Homo sapiens: one gene and its partner. The protein of the gene in region 2 purifies or fractionates together with the protein of the main gene of each other region. This does not show direct contact. Each region holds a gene or a part of one and is shown on either strand. Other genes may lie near its edges. The genes, in order: FH and ALDH1B1.

What was found.
Region 1: the proteins of ALDH1B1 (region 2) and FH fractionate together in Homo sapiens (co-fractionation; 2 studies listed by BioGRID). This does not show direct contact.

The regions. Positions count from the first base shown.
Region 1 is NC_000001.11:241,502,640-241,510,585, forward strand, and holds part of FH (fumarate hydratase, mitochondrial), read right to left. Parts: intron 6,147-7,946; coding exon 5,964-6,146; intron 3,530-5,963; coding exon 3,364-3,529; intron 1,607-3,363; coding exon 1,403-1,606; intron 1-1,402. UniProt on the Homo sapiens protein: Catalyzes the reversible stereospecific interconversion of fumarate to L-malate. Experiments in other species have demonstrated that specific isoforms of this protein act in defined pathways and favor one direction over the other.
Region 2 is NC_000009.12:38,387,765-38,395,723, reverse strand, and holds the start of ALDH1B1 (aldehyde dehydrogenase X, mitochondrial precursor), read right to left. Parts: upstream 3,023-7,959; 5' UTR 2,917-3,022; exon of another isoform or gene 1,291-2,916; coding exon of another isoform or gene 1,159-1,290; intron 1-1,158. UniProt on the Homo sapiens protein: ALDHs play a major role in the detoxification of alcohol-derived acetaldehyde. They are involved in the metabolism of corticosteroids, biogenic amines, neurotransmitters, and lipid peroxidation.

The DNA of each region.
Region 1 (7,946 bases), on a different chromosome or scaffold from region 2:
TAATTTCACTAAATAGAGTAAGATATACAATAAAGCAAGGCCCAACCATCAGTGTAATTTAATGAAACAAACCAACCAAGGAAGGTGGGATGGGTAGCCACAAAATGAATCATTCAAAGGCTAACGAGTAGCCACAACTACACATTAAATATAGTTCTCCACCTTCATGATTTTCATTCATTCTATACATATTTATGGAGCCAGGCACTCAATATACAACACTGAATAAGAAAGATGCAGGCCCTGCCCTCGCAGAACTTGGAGGCTAGGGAGAAAGAGCTGGCAATTATAAGGGGTAAATACAGAGTAGTGTATGCTGCTATCAGAACACTTATAAAAGCGACCCTTCACTAACACATGGGAGGCTTCCTAGGGGAAGGTGATGCTAAGCTAAAATTTTCCTATTTATCACGAGTCTCTGGAACCCCACTACCCTGCTCACACTCCTTGGACAAGCTCCAAGTTTGAATCAAACAACCCAGATTCCTCTGACCAGTACAAGTTAACACACTGGAAAGATTATTGGGTGGATTATTGCCTTTATCTGTGACTCCCCCAGTTCTCTTTCTTTTGGCAATCACCCTGGATTTGCAATCAACTAAACCTTTATGTCATTCTTCAACATGAAGTACTTTAAAACAAAATTTCATCTCTTCTTATTCTACAGATCCATAATTTCCATAAAAATCTAGAGTCAGGCCTTTCTCACTATTAAAAGTTACATTGTCAGTTTTAGCCCAAGCTACAGTGGCCTTTATGGATCTCAGTTCTGTCATCCATAGTATTGCTATCCCAACTTTGTTAACTGTTAATATGATTAGCATGTATTCTCTTCCTTCACCCTCAGTCACCAGTAAAGTGTTGAAGGGCAGAGCCCTTCAGCTTGTTACCAATATATTCTTCTAGACTGAAGTCACTTCATTAGTCACTTCTGAAATGTCACTGTTCACCCAGCTACATTCATCTGCCAGCACTGCCCACGCTTCTCCACTGGAATCAATGACTATCATGCGAATCTATCAAATGACTTGCTGAAATCCAGACATACACTGTTGTGTCACTTGCTATATCTAACAGGCATATAACGGAATGCAAAAAATGAAATAAGTGAAGTTTGGTATGACTTCTTTTTATTCAACCCGCGCTGATCACTTTAACAGCCTGCTCTACATTTTCTAATGTGGGATTCGAAATACTTGCTGCTAAGTCAGATTCTTTCTTCCTATCTTGTCAGGTGACGTGCCCAGCAGTCCTGACCAGAGGACCACAGACATGCTGGAACAGTGCGCCTTGCGCATCCAGCTGCGGGATAACTTTAAACAAAGAGAGACATGGTCCATAGCTAAGAATGCCTAGGACCTAGTCAAGTTTTAGCTCCAACATTTACTAGCTATGTGATTACCTGGCATGATACTGCTTCCTGGTTCATTTTCAGGCAAGATCAATTCTCCCAGACCTGACCGAGGACCAGAACCCAAAAATCGAATATCATTTGCTATCTTCATCAGACTGCAGGCAGTAGTGTTCATGGCTCCACTGAGCTCAACCAGAGCGTCATGAGCAGCCAGAGCTTCAAATTTATTCGGAGCAGTGACAAAAGGCAAGCCTAAAGAAAAGAAAAATATCCTAGATGGGTGAACAAGTTAAACTAAACATTTTTCTACCATTAGCAAGTGAAACAGAAAGTTCCAATATACGAAAAAATAAAAATTTTACTTCAGAAAAAAATGTTTACTTAAGACTCAAATTTTGTCTACATTTTTAAAAGAAGTCCTAAAGGAGTAGAAAGAATCTGGTATTACATTTTTTAAGTTTTTTCAGACAGGGTCTCACTCTGCTGCCCAGGCTGGAGTGCAGTGTGGCTCAATCACAGCTCACTGTAGCCTCAACCTCCATGGCTCAGGCAATCCTCCCACCTCAGCCTCCAGAGTAGCTAAGACTACAGGTGCACACCACCACGCCCAGCTAATTCTTTAATTTTTAGTAGAGATGGGGTTTCGCCATGTTGCCCAGGCTGGTCTCAAACTCCTAGGCTCTAGCGATCCACCCACCTTGGTCTCCTGAAGTGCTGGAATTACAGGAGTGTAATTCCACTGTGCTTAGCCAGGCACTACATTTTAAAAAGATGAAATAACAAGTATGATAAATGTACTGAAAGAAAAAACACAATCCTACTGCAAACACACGTATATGATGCCTGACTATGCTTGAGTAAAAAGTATATGGGAATTCATTCTGGTTTATACCACACTCCTTTCCTAATACCTTTTTTCTTTTTTTTTTTTTTGAGACAGAGTCTTGCTTTTTTAGCCAGGCTGGAGGGCAGTGGTACGATCTTGGCTCATTGCAACCTCCTCCTCCAGGGTTCCAGCAATTCTCCTGCCTCAGCCTCCCAAGTAGCTGGGGTTACAGGCGCCCGCCACCATGCCCGGCTAATTTTTTTAAATTTTTACTAGAGACAGGGTTTCGCCATGTTGACCAGGCTGGTCTCGAACTCCTGACCTCAAGTGATCTGCCCATCTTGGCCTCCCAAAGTGCTAGGATTACAGGTGTGAGCCCCCATGTCCGGCCCCTAATACAATTTTTTAAAGTTTCTTTGTCCACTTTACTGTGCTTCATCCTCTCCCCTAGCCAGGAGCCCACAAGATCCCCTATAAAAACAGTGTGCTAAAATGAGTTAGATGTTCTCAGTTAACCCCCATGTTAAAAATTTTATAAATCTACATTTGCCAAACCCTAAAAGTAGAGTTCTTTTCTATTAAAATATGGTTTAAAGACAAATCAGCTGGTAAGCTATCATGTGCAGTGTATAATTATCTCTACCCTAACCGTCTGGTAACATCTACATCTTAATGAGAGTTTTCTGAAGATGACAACTTGGCCCTAATAATAGTTATCATTATCTAAAGTATAATACTCTCTCTACTAAAGGAAAGACATGGTTCAAAAAGGTCAATAATTCAAAGAATTATCACAGCATGACATAATAGGAAAAAAAAGAAATTAAGTCTGTCTACAACATATTTACTATTCAAATAACTTACTCAACACTCAGTTTTTTCTGCCTATTTTGAAAACTGCTATTCAAAACTTTAAAGGGAAATTAATTGAAAACTAACTAGTAAACAAAGCTAACACTGGTAGATTTTAATGGCATGCTGTATAAACTCCTACATGGAACATTTTTTAAAAGGCAAATAATTAACATTATAACTTCAGAAATATACTTAAAACACATGTTTGATGGAAAAATATCATTTCTAACTTTAAATTCACAAGAATTCAAGACAGGAACACTCAGAAAATGTACAGACCACGTATAATGAGAAATGAAAATGAGAAATAATTCACGTGATCACTAACCTGTAAGTGCAGCCACTTTTGCAGCAACCTTTTCTGCAAAGCCAATTCTAGTATTTAAACCTGTACCAACAGCAGTGCCTCCAGCTGCGAGCTCATAGATTCTTGGCATGGCAGCTTTTATTCTTGTCATTGCATATTTTACTTGTTGAACATAACCACTAAATTCCTGAAAAGAAAAGAAAATTAAGGTAAGAATAAGTAATTCCTAATAGCTTACAAGTTACTCTAACTGCATTAAATAGAAATTTTTAAAAATACCTTTCAGAATACTAAATTACAAGCTAATCAAGTTTTATTTATACTACTTCAAATCTTATGATGAGCAAAGTATAGGGAAGGATGAGGGTTTATAGAACCATAAGGTACGACAATGCCACTGATAACATGCAGCCTATTTATTATAATCTAGTCTTTTAATAGGAAGCAAAGAAAAACAGCACAGGAAATACACTTTAAAAAGAACAACTTTACTACACTAAATTATTGGTTTACTTGCAGTCTACTAAAGAAACTGAAGTGATTTCTTATTTTTTGGGATGCCTCAGACAACTTTGGTGTAAGAAAAAATAGTAACTCATCTCCCCCAAAAAAATGCAAACATAGAAATATTCTCCATACAATTTCAGTGTATAAACCTACCAGGAAATATGAAGACATTCTACAGAGACTTGGGAAGCTAATGACTCACTGAATAGCACAGGAAGGTAACAGTTTGCATTGAAGGACCTTCCAAAAAGAATAGGAGGTAACGGTAGAGTCAGATCATAGCATCAATGTGCCAATGTCAACACTGGTTCCAAATTTTGACATGCCTTAATTAAAGCAACCACAGAATTTATGTTTTGAACACAGAAAGGGCTCTATTAATAGTCATGCAGAAACAAAAGGCATACACTGGGAGTTAACTGGACAAACCAAGATACATGGTTACACTAAATCTATCCTTTTTTCCTGCCTGAAAACACTAAAAAACCATAAGTGACAGGATGCCATACTGTTCTAAAGAAAACATTTCAAAAGATATAACTCATTATAGGTAGACCTGATGCATCTGATATAACATCACTCATATACAGTCACGCACCACATAATGATGTTTCAGCCAACGAAAGATCACATAAACAGTGGGACCCTAAGATTATAAAACCGTATTTTTACTGTACCTTTTCTACATTTAGATATGTTTAGATACACAAATACTTACCATTGTGTTACGATTGCCTATTGTATCCAATGCAGTAACATGCTGCACAGATTTGTAGCCTAGGAGGAAAAGGCTATGCCATATAGCCTAGGTGTATAGAAGGCTATACCATCTAGGTTTGTGTGAGTATACTCTGTGATGTTCACATAACTATGAAATTGCCTAAGGATGCATTTTTCAGAACATACCCCCATTGCTAAGCAACACATGACTGTATGTATACACACACACACAAACACACTAGATAGATTCACTTATAAAATACACTTTGACAGGGAACAATGCACGAACTCAAAAGACAATCCCAATAAAAGCAAGTATAAATGCTTCTGATAAAGTCAAACAGAAAAATGTAATTTTCTGTCTTAACAGGAAGAATGATGATTTTACACAGGAGGCTGAGTCATGGCCCAAATGGTATTTAGTATTGTAGTTTTCAACACCAAAAAAAGGTTAAAATTAGAAACTTGAGAAATATTCAAAAGTTTCAAAACATACATACTGTTCCTCCTTAGAAATTATGCATGGTCCTAAGTACTAATGATGCAAAGAGAAATGAGACACAGCCTTAAGAAGCAACTCAATCCAGTGAGTTCAATTTAGTCCCATCATTTGTTTTTCAATTACTCATTTCAAGTTTTCCTCATTCCTTCCATAAGGAAATTAAGCTACCCCAATTGGAGTGTGAGTTTACTAAGACAAAAGTCATTCCCTGTATTTCCTTACATTTCCTTCACAATGTATACTATTAGATATTCCTTAAGGCATTGAAAAAGAAACATGAAAATACTTTCTAATATCTTGGAGAAGAGAGTAGTATCTCCTTCACATGCGGCCAGATCCATCTTAAAAAGATCTACCTTATTTAATCACTTTGAGATTAAATTTTAAATAACCTACTAATTTAGGTAAGAAAGACAAAAGAAAAACCATGATGATACTGATGGAGATGACAGCGATGACGGTGGTGATGATGGTAGCTAACATGAATGGGTACTTACTGTGTGCCAGGCATGCTTCTAAGCACTCTACATAAATCAACTTACTAGAGCTTCACAACTATCCTATGAAAGGGAAATTATTTTCCTCATTTTGTAGCTCAGAAAACTGAGGCACAGAAAGGCTAAATGACTTTCCTATGGTCCCATAGCTTGTACACAGCAAAGCTAAGATTTGAACCCGAGCAGTCTGACTGAATCTGACTTATAGCCAGTATACTCTGCTTTTCTTCTAAGTGGATGTCAATGAAAATTACTGATTGGTTGAACAGAACAACCTCTGTCACTGAAGTTTCCGGTTACAAATTTGGCCTTTTAAGCTAGTCAGATTTCAAGGATGACACATTGGCCATTTGTACCAAGCTCTAAATTGAATCAAATTAGTCAAACTCCTATACCTGCCCAAGAGTAAGTGGAACAGCATCCTGAGTATGAGTACGTCCAATCTTGATGATCTGTGCAAACTCTTTGGATTTTGCATCAAGAGCATCATGTAACTTCTGTAGTCCTGGTAACAGTACTTCATGAACTTCTATTGCAGCAGCAATGTGCATTGCTGTGGGAAAAGTATCATTTGAGCTCTGTTGGAAATTTTTCAAAAGAAATATAAAATGTTAAATCAGAGGCAACAAAAACAAACTTCTGAATTAAACTTCTCAATTAAAAAACTCTCCAACTAACTACTCAAAACCCAGCTCAGTTACATGTATGTGTGGCATGTCATAGGTGAGTTATTATAGAATCAAATAAGCAGCATCCTGGTTTCTAACACATACTCAGAACTGTATTATACACATTAAGTATACTGAATGTATTATGTATTATATATGTATTACGTATTATATTATATTATGTATTATATAATATATTATGTATTATATTATGTATTACGTATTATATCTGCCTGCTAATAAATGACAGCAAAATACAGAGAAGTATAGTTAACAACTGCACTTGAAGACAGCAGTAGTATCTTCAATGTAGTTGAATATCTTATAATTATATCAAATTACATCAATTATTGAATTATATATTCTTATAAAATCTTATAATTGAATATCTTACAATTATACAGTGCATACAGTCTTTCATAAACAGCTCTTTATTAAGTTTAGAAAAATTCTGTGAGGTAGATTACCACTTTAAAAATAGGAAAGCCAAGCCCTCAAAGAGACTGTATAAATGCCAAAATATTTAGCAACTGGCAAACCTGAGACCTAGCCAGGTAGTATATACTCAGTGCTCTTTCCTCAACTGTTGACCCTGTACTTTTAAAACATAATATCAAGCTGGGTGCAGTGGCTCATGCCTATAACCTCAGCACTTTCAGAGGCTGAGGCAGGAGGATCAATTGAGGCCAGGAGTTTAAGACCAGCCTGGGCAACACAGAGCAATACCCTGTCTCTGAAAACATTTTTAAAGTTAGCCAGGCATGGCGGTGCATGCCTATGGTCCCACTTGCTCAGGAAGCTAAGGCATGAGGATCCCTGGAGCTCAGCATTTCCAGGCTGCAGTGAGCTATGCTCACTCTACTGCACTCCAGCCTGGGTGACAGAGTGAAGCACAATCTCTAAACACACACACACACACACACACACACACACACACACACACACACACGCATGCACACACACAGATATATATAAAAGTATACTGTCATTTAAAAAGATACATTATTTATATATTTTGACGTTTACTATGCAAAATATAAAGTACTTACGAAAGAAGTAGGATGAATGGTATAATAAACACTTATGTACCTGTCACCTGAATTCAAATAGTTTACATAATTATCAACATGTAGCCAATCACGTTTCATCTATAACTCTACCTTTCTGAGGCAGACTTCAGACTTCAGTATATATAGAACATAAATTCATAAAGGCAAGTATTAGATTGGGAAAATCCCTTATACAATGAACGTGTATTAAAAACACTTCTTCCTTACTACTTAAAAATATATTAAATTATACTTAGCACCCAGATCTCAGTTTCTAAATATCATTTTCCAATAAGAATTCTCCAACAGTTCCTTGAAAAATGGCTGTTTCTAGGGCTGGGGCAGAAACAATACAAGACAATGAGCTTGGAGCATCTTAAAGTACCAGGAAGTCGGAACACACTTCAGAAAAGTAAAAGGATGGTGGCATGCCTAAAAGGACACAAGAGCCAAATGAATTGGGTTCCCAGAGCTGAAAGAATTTAAGCAACAATATAAACAAAAGTATGGGATCATAACCTGAAGAATAAAATAAATAACCATCAGTCCATACTGATATACCCAAATAACTGAATAAATAAATAAATGGGACAGAGAGAACAAATCTTCCTTGCAGAAAAATTCAACTAACAAGTGTAGAATGAATAAAGAAAACTGAAAA
Region 2 (7,959 bases):
GAAACCAGGGTGAACAGGTGGGAGAAGGCAGGTGGCGGTACCCAAGGGCCCACCAGCTCAAACATTTCAAGATTCCAGCATAAAGGACTGTCACCTCTAAAAACACAGACTGTAAGAGCTGTGAGGGCCCTGATGAACTCTCTGGGCCAACTCCATCACGTCCCGCCTATCCTCAGCTCACTCCCTCACCTCTGCTGGGTCTCAAAAGCCACTGTCTCAGCAAGGCCTTCCCTGACCACCCTTTAAAAAATTGCAACCCTTCCCACCCCAACACTCTCTATCCCCGCTACCCTGCTTTACTCCTTCTCTATCTCACATCCCAAATACTATCTTTACAGGCTTATATGTTTGTCTGTCTCCCCCCAGTAAAATGCAAGCTCCATGAGCACAGGAACTTATTTTTCTGTTCCATTCACTGCTACGTCCCCGAGCCTAGAGGTATGCCTGCTACAGAGCAGCGGCTCAACACACAGTACTGAATGATACACTGAGAAAACACTGAAATTGCCACAAAGGCTGTCTAAGAATTGACCTAAGACTTGAGTAGAAATCAAAGGGACTTGGAGATGGTTGTTCTCTGAGAGGGACTTGCTTCATTTCACCTCTGTGCCTCAGTTCCCCCATATGTGAAATGCCTCATGGGGTTATGTTGAATGATGTCTTGCATATAAAAACCCTGGCAAGCTCCACTCAGGACATCAGAACTGGCCGTGCCTCAGAAATTGACCTAGCCCAGCATCCCCCAACCACAGGTCTCAGCATCCCTTTTCAGCTTTCCCAGAGGTGCAGCAAGTCAGGAGGCAGCTGAGAAGAAAAGCTACAACTCTGAAGAGTGTAGACTTCGTTAAAACAACTACTGTTATAAAACTTAAACGGCATATAATACATATTAAATGAAAATTAAACAGAGTGTAGTGTTCCCAGATTAGTTGAAGCAGTTATTCTTCAGTCAGAATTTGAATCTCTCTGCCTTTGATGTCTCATGAGTCTTGCTCCGCCCAGCGGTAAAATGGAATTGCACCTGCCTGTCCCTTCACCCCCAGCCTCTCACCCTCCACCCCTGGGCAGGGAGAGGAACAAAAAACTCAATCAGGAAAGCAAGGCTCCATGTAGGTCCCCGGCCCCATAAAAATCAATGTGATGGGCGTGGTGGCTTACGCTGGTAACGCTTTGGTAGGCCGAAGTGGAAGGACTGCTTGAGGCCAGGAGTTTGAGACCAGCCTGAGCACATAGCAAGAACCGTGTCTCTACAAAAAAACAAAAATAAATTTGCCGAGCATAGTGGTGCATGCCTGTAGTTCTAGCTGCTTGGGAGGCTGAGGTGGGGGCAATCACCTGAGCCCAGGAGGTTGAGGCTGCAGTGAGCCATGATTGTGCCACTGCACTCCAGCCTGGGTAACAGAACAAGACTGTATCTAAAAAAAATAATAATAATCAATGCTGACCAAGAAAGTTTCCCTTCCCCTTGCGGGTGTTAGGAATAATGCTCAAAATCCTAAGGAAATTGAACACTCGAACACAGGATTCTTAGCAAAGCAATTTTACTTCTGCGCAGAGGGATGCCTCCTTGGCCAGTTGCCATGAGAGCACACCTGAACAAAGGGGCACGAGAGCCTTTATTCCTGATGCAAGTCCTGCCCCTGTACCCTTTCCCCATTGGCTGGGGTCAGGTCGTACAATCTAAACTAATCCCGGTTGGCTAAACATTTGATTTATTTTAGATAGAGTGGGCACGTAAAAGAAAGTGGAGAGAAAGGGGAAAGGGTGTCTGTAATGAGCTAGAAAGTTAGTCTTCTTTCCAAATAAGCAAAGGAATGTGAGCTGGTACTGATAACGCTTGGTACTGTGGCATGCCTGGGCATCTAACAAAGGCAAAAAGGAGAAAAATGAAAAAAAAAAAGGGGGGGATACTAAGAATTAAAGAATAAAAGATTGATCAGATTATTTGAAGAGAAACCTCATCATATCCCACAGGGGGAAGCTGAGTCAGCAGATCTGCCAGGGGTGCCCAGGGTTCCATTTAGCTCAGGACTTTGCCATATGCTGGGACACAGCCCCCTTGCCACCAACAGGCCTGGCTCTGAGGGTGAGGAGACCAAAAGGAGGTAGGGGAAAGGGGAGTCACCAACCCATGGGGTAAGGATTGGAGGGGTGAAGCAGTCAGGAGAGGTGGTCATAGGCCAAGGCTGGCAAACCTTTGCAGCCACACCAAGGCCGTTCCTACTCTTGGGGCCTATATGGGGTTCTTGCTGGGGCCTCCACTTGCTGATAGGAAGATCACAGCTCACAGAGCATCATGCTTTACAGTTTGCAGGCTGTCTTCTCACGGGAAATTTGCCAAGCCTCTCTGCAGTCCCTGGGTGGTCAGGGTTGATGATGACCCCCATTCTGGAAGAAGGCTGGGCATCAGAGAGGTTCAGGGACTCACCGAGGACACACAGCAAGAAAGTATAGGAGCCTCACCCCAGACTTCCACAAACCTAGCTTTGCATATCCTCCTGAATACAGGCAATTTTTTACAGTTCACCCACAGCGGGAAGGACCGGACCTTCTCTATCCGCGGGAACTGCAGCGGCGCCCACCTCACCCCTTCTGCGGGGGAAAGGGCGCAACCTTTGGGCTTGTCCAAGCCTCTGGGCTATGGTCAGGGGCCCTCTGTTGAAGTGGGCCGAGTGGGCAGGAGTGTTGAGGTCGAGCTAACGTGGTAAGGTCTGGGGGCGTCTGTGTCCTCGGGGCTCCTGTAGCGTCACCCAGAGGCGGGGGATGGGATTAGGGGACGTGGAGAGAGTCCTACAGTGCAACGGCGGAAAGGCCAGCCCCCAGATGCGGACGCCGCGGCCCAGAGAGGAAAGCCCCCACGCGGAGCCAGGAGCTGCGGCTTCCCGAGGGAGCCGAGGGGAGACCAGCGTTAGTTACCTGCAGCAGGCTCGGGCTCCGGTTCAGGATCACGCTTGGGTTCTGGTTCCGGCCCTCCCAGCTCTGTCCACATGGCCGCCCAGGGCTGGCCGCAGGTCCCGCCTCCGCGCAGCCCGGGGCTCAGCGGCCAATGAGGCTCCGCCTGCGCCTGGGGCGCTGCCTACGTCCTGTCGCCGGCCAAGGCCGCTCCTCCCTCGCCCCGCCCGGTCTTTCCCGGTCCCCGCCCCTCTACCCCCGGCAGCCCGCACCGCTTCAGCGCTCCCTCCCTCGGGTCTCCGCAAGCCCAGTGTCCACGTTGCTCAGATCTAGGCTCCTAAGGCACTGGTTTGGGAGCGGAAACAGAGATACCCAGAGAGGGGCAGGGGCTTCCCCAGGTCACACAGCAAAGTTTTCGGAGACCGAACCCCAACTACACTTTGCATTTCTCCCCGCTGCAAGACGCTGCTTAATCGACTGCCATCCTTGAGACTCCCCTTAACCCCTTCTCTGCCTCGCCTCTCCCTCACTTTTTTTGTCCAGGATTCACTAATTTCTGTCCTCCACTTTCACTGCTCCTTTCTTCAGTTCCTTCAAGAAGATTTTATATTTGGGCATTTTTCAAAGTACATTTTTGTCCTAAGGACAAAAAGAATGTATGCACAGTGTAGAAAGCTTGGAAAACACAGGAAAGGATGAAAAAAGAAGAAAAATATCACCTGTAATCTCTTCACCTACGGTAGCCATTATTACGGTGTTCGTCCTGCTAGTATTGTTTCCTCTGCATCTTTCAAAATTATTTTAATAAAAATAAAATCATATAGTAACCTCTGTTGTGCTGCTTTAAAAAAAATTTAAAAACTTAGCGCTGTATTTTGAAGTTTTCTCCTATCACTAATTACAGATGACATCATCCTCTCCAAGGTGGCATAGAATTCTGTTGTAGGGGTAAACTGTTGGACATTTAATTGTCTCCATTTTGTTGCTATAAAGGTTGCCAAGATGGACCACTGAACATGCATCTCACTCGCTCCACCCTCGCTGCACCTTCCTTCTGGCTAGGGAGGTCCCAAAGCTAACCGCCATGTTTCCCAGCCTCATTTGCAGTTAGAGTTCTGGATGTGGACTAGGTGCTGCCAATTAGTAGTACTCTGCCGGATGTGGAAGGCGGGCACGCATTGGAGGGTATTGTCCTGCCCCTGTAGGGTGGCACTAGCAGGATAGCAGAAATGGGAGATGTTCTGCGGCAGCATTCCTTGTCCCTTCTCCAGCTTTCTGGCTGTGGACCGGCCGCTGTGGCTGTAGCCGCTCCTTGACCTGGCTTCCTGCTCTTTGAATGGAGGCTGCAGGAGGGTGTCTGAAGTAGCCTCAGACAGGCACGAGGCTGGTGGGCCACGTCCATATTGTCCTGAGAGTTGGTCCTGGTCTGGCTAAGGCTTGCTTCTGCCTCCGGCACTTGCAGCAGGTCTGTAAGCACCCAGTTCCTTGTATTAAATCCCTGCCTCTCCACTGATCTAGGGTGCTCACATGCGACTGCTTGGACCTAATTCACTTAGTTCTTTCCTTAAGCTACATCTCTATGGAATCTTTTGCTACCATATCATCCTTAGCATGTTCACAGCCCTTGCTGCAAAAGTTAGCCATCCATGAAGGCACTATGATTGGCATCTTATCACCTTGATGCCCATGCTTTCCTCGGGTTTCTCCAGCAACGGCATGAGCCCCTTGCCAAGGCCCTCCTGCCTCCCCCACAGCACGTGGACAGCCTAGCTCCCCTTGGGCACTTGGCATAGCACTCCAGGACTGATTGACTTAATGATTAACTGACCAATCCTTAAGAGGCCTCATTGATAGAGGGAGTGAGTTTATGGCAAAATGAGTATCAGTCCTCGTGTTAGAGTGCATTGGAAACTGTGGCAGGTCTGAGAGGCCAGCTGCAGACAGGAAGTGACCCCCATGCGGCAAGGTTGGAGGCTGTGCCCCTTGAGGAGCAGCTGAAGGAACTGGGATGTTCACCCTTTAGAACTTGAAAGACAAGGCTGTGCCGTCCAAATCTCTGAAGGGCAAAACCAGATAGGATCTGTGGGGTCCTAGAAGGCAGAGCCAGACCAGTGAAGAATACAGAGGAATAACTCCCAGAAAAAGCAGAACTGGCTAAGGCTGGGAGGGGCTCCCTTGAAAGGCAGTGGGCCTCCCATCACTGGAGGAGTACAGGGAAGGACAGATAACCATGTGGCAAAATCCTAGTTCAGATAAGAACTAGACAAGGGGCTCCCAAACTTAGCTATACATCAGAATTGAGTGGGGAGCTTAGTTTTTTTTGTTTGTTTGTGTTTTTGTTTTTGTTTTTTAACAATCTCCTGGACCTTGCCTTCAGAGAGTCTAAATTATTAGATGTAGGTTGGAGCCCAGAAGTTTTTGTTAAGTTTCTCATATGCTTCCTTTTTTGTTTTGTTTTGTTTTGTTTTGTTTTGAGATGGAGTCTTACTCTGTCACCCAGGCTGGAGTACAACAGTGCCATCTCGGCTCACTGCCGCCTCCGCCTCCCCAATTCAGGTGAGTCTCCTGCCTCAGACTCCTGAGTAGCTTGGACTACAGGAGCGTGCCACCATGCCAGCTAATTTTTGTATTTTTAGTAGAGACGGGGTTTCACTATGTTGACCAGGCTGGTCTCAAACTCCTGACCTCAAGTGATCCGCCCTGCTCAGCCTCCCAAAGTGCGGGGATTACAGGCATGAGCCACTGCGCCTGGCCAAGTTTCTCATATGCTTCTGATATATAACCATATTTGGGAAGCACTGGCCTAAGTGGTTTCTGAGGAGTCTTTGACTCCGTCATGGTTATTTCCAGAAAGTGACTTTGCCTGCAAATGTGTTATGTCTAGATTCTATCCAGCATGCCCACCTTTGACACTTTCTAAGCTGTGACTGGCATCAGAACTCACCAAAGTGGTCCTGTTGCAAGGTATTTACCCCTCCTCAAAAAAAAAAAAAAAAAACTTCCACAGTGCTTGACATTTATGGTTTGGAGAGAAGAATGAATGTGCAGTAGCTGAAGGTAAAATGCACAAATTATTTTTGCAGAGGGTTGACTATTTTCCAGGAATGTGATGGATTCAGCTTTTTAATTAACAAAAAAAGATCCAGGCCCTTTGTAAGGATATTGGACCTGGAGCCTGTGTGGATTGAAGGGGAAAGGGTGAGATAACACAAGCCACAGTCAGGTCAGTGTCGTCCAGGGATGTGTTTACACTGGGCTGGTGGGAGAAGAGAAGCAATTTCTATCCTTCAGCGTTGTAGAGCCTTATATGTCTAAGAAGTTACTGAAGAAGAATCCAGCTCTGAGAATGACGTACAGATCAGCTAGATTCCAAACAAAAGGACTGAAAGCTGCACTGAGTGTTTCTTCTACACTGAGCATAATCATTTTCTGTATTTGAACGGAAGAGGCAAGACTAGGTCAAGACACTGAGGCATTTGCAGGAAATGGAAATTTAAAAATAAAGATACATTTAAAAATCAAACCAATATATACTTTTTTCTTTTTTCCTAAGTGATCCTCTAAGTGAAGCTTACTCTCTGTGAACATGAGCAAGTCTGAATGTTGTTGAACATAACTAACCCCTGAGTATTTGCCACAAACTCTGTTCTCCTCCCTCTCTGTCTTCCTTCCCCTTCACCTCATTTTTATGGTTGAAGAAACTGAGACCCAAAAAGGAAAAGGGACTTGCCCAAGGTCCCTTTGGAAGGGATTAGGGGATTAGTATCCAAGTGCAGACTAGAAGCCAAGCTCTTGCACAATCACACAAATAACACTGGCCTGGAAGCAAAACATGCAGCTGGTGCGTGGGCATCTGCAGAGGTGGATTTCTACCCAAGGCTTTGAAGGCCCCCCTAAGGAGTGCTCCGTTCATGACTGTGGACTGCAGAGAACACTGGTAGTAGCCTCCCTATAATCCTAGCACTTCCAGATTTCTTGACAATAGCTTAGTGCCCTTCACTTCCCAGCCTCCCAACACTTGTGTTAATATTAATCTCTTCCTACTCAAAACACCTAGAGTGGCTTCCATTTTCTTGACCACACCTTAACTGACAGCATCATTGAGACTAAGGAAGACCCAACTGAGAGGAGGAGGAGGTTGGGGTCCGGTGGGGCAGGGAGAGAAGACTGTTGCAGTGCTTACGTGTGGCAATAGCACCTGTAAAGCACAGTTAGAGTTCACCCTAGCAGAGCAAAAGGCTCAGCTTTTACTACGCTGCCCTGGCTGTGGCTCCCCTCCTCATGTTAAGGTCAAGGAGAAAAGCCACATGCAAATGAAATAAACAGTAATTGAAGGCAGAGCCACGTGCAACCTTGGGAGCTCCTTCTTTTGGAGAGATGAGGAGGAGTTTGGACAGAGGTCAAGGGAGGAACGTGGGTGGTAAATGGAAGGGAAATACCAACACCACCCTGGGGCCTGAGAGAGAGCCTGGGCTTCACACCTGCCTGTCTCTTCTCCCACTGACAAGGTGACAAGCAGCACAAAATAAAGTAATGCTGCCTTAACTGTCCTAGTGAGGAAGAAGCTCCAGACTAGACACCACAAACTGGTAGCCCAAGTCTCAAGCCAGCATACATGTTCTATTTGGCCCCAGCAGAGTTGTGGGGTTTTTTTTCCCCGTTTTATGCTTTCTAATGCTTAAACATTGAGATATTTGACATTAAAATGTACTTTTCTATTTGTTCTTGAAACATTGGAAGACTTAGTACTATCAGGCCTGCACGTGGATATGGAACAGTGGCTCAACTAGAGATGCACGTAGTAGCTGCCCCCTTTAGGCAGGGCTTTCATTTTCCAGTTTGCCACAGGCCTCACCACTCCCTATTGCTTCACCTTATGTACACTGATTGTGGTAGGCAGAATAATGGCCCCTAAAGACGTCAATGTCCTAACACCTGGTACCTATGAAGACATTACCTTACATGGCAAAAGAGGATATTGTAGTTAATGATCTGGAGGTGGGAGATTATTCTAGATTGTATAGCCAGGGCCTAATGTAATCACAAGGGTCCTTATCGAAGGGAAAC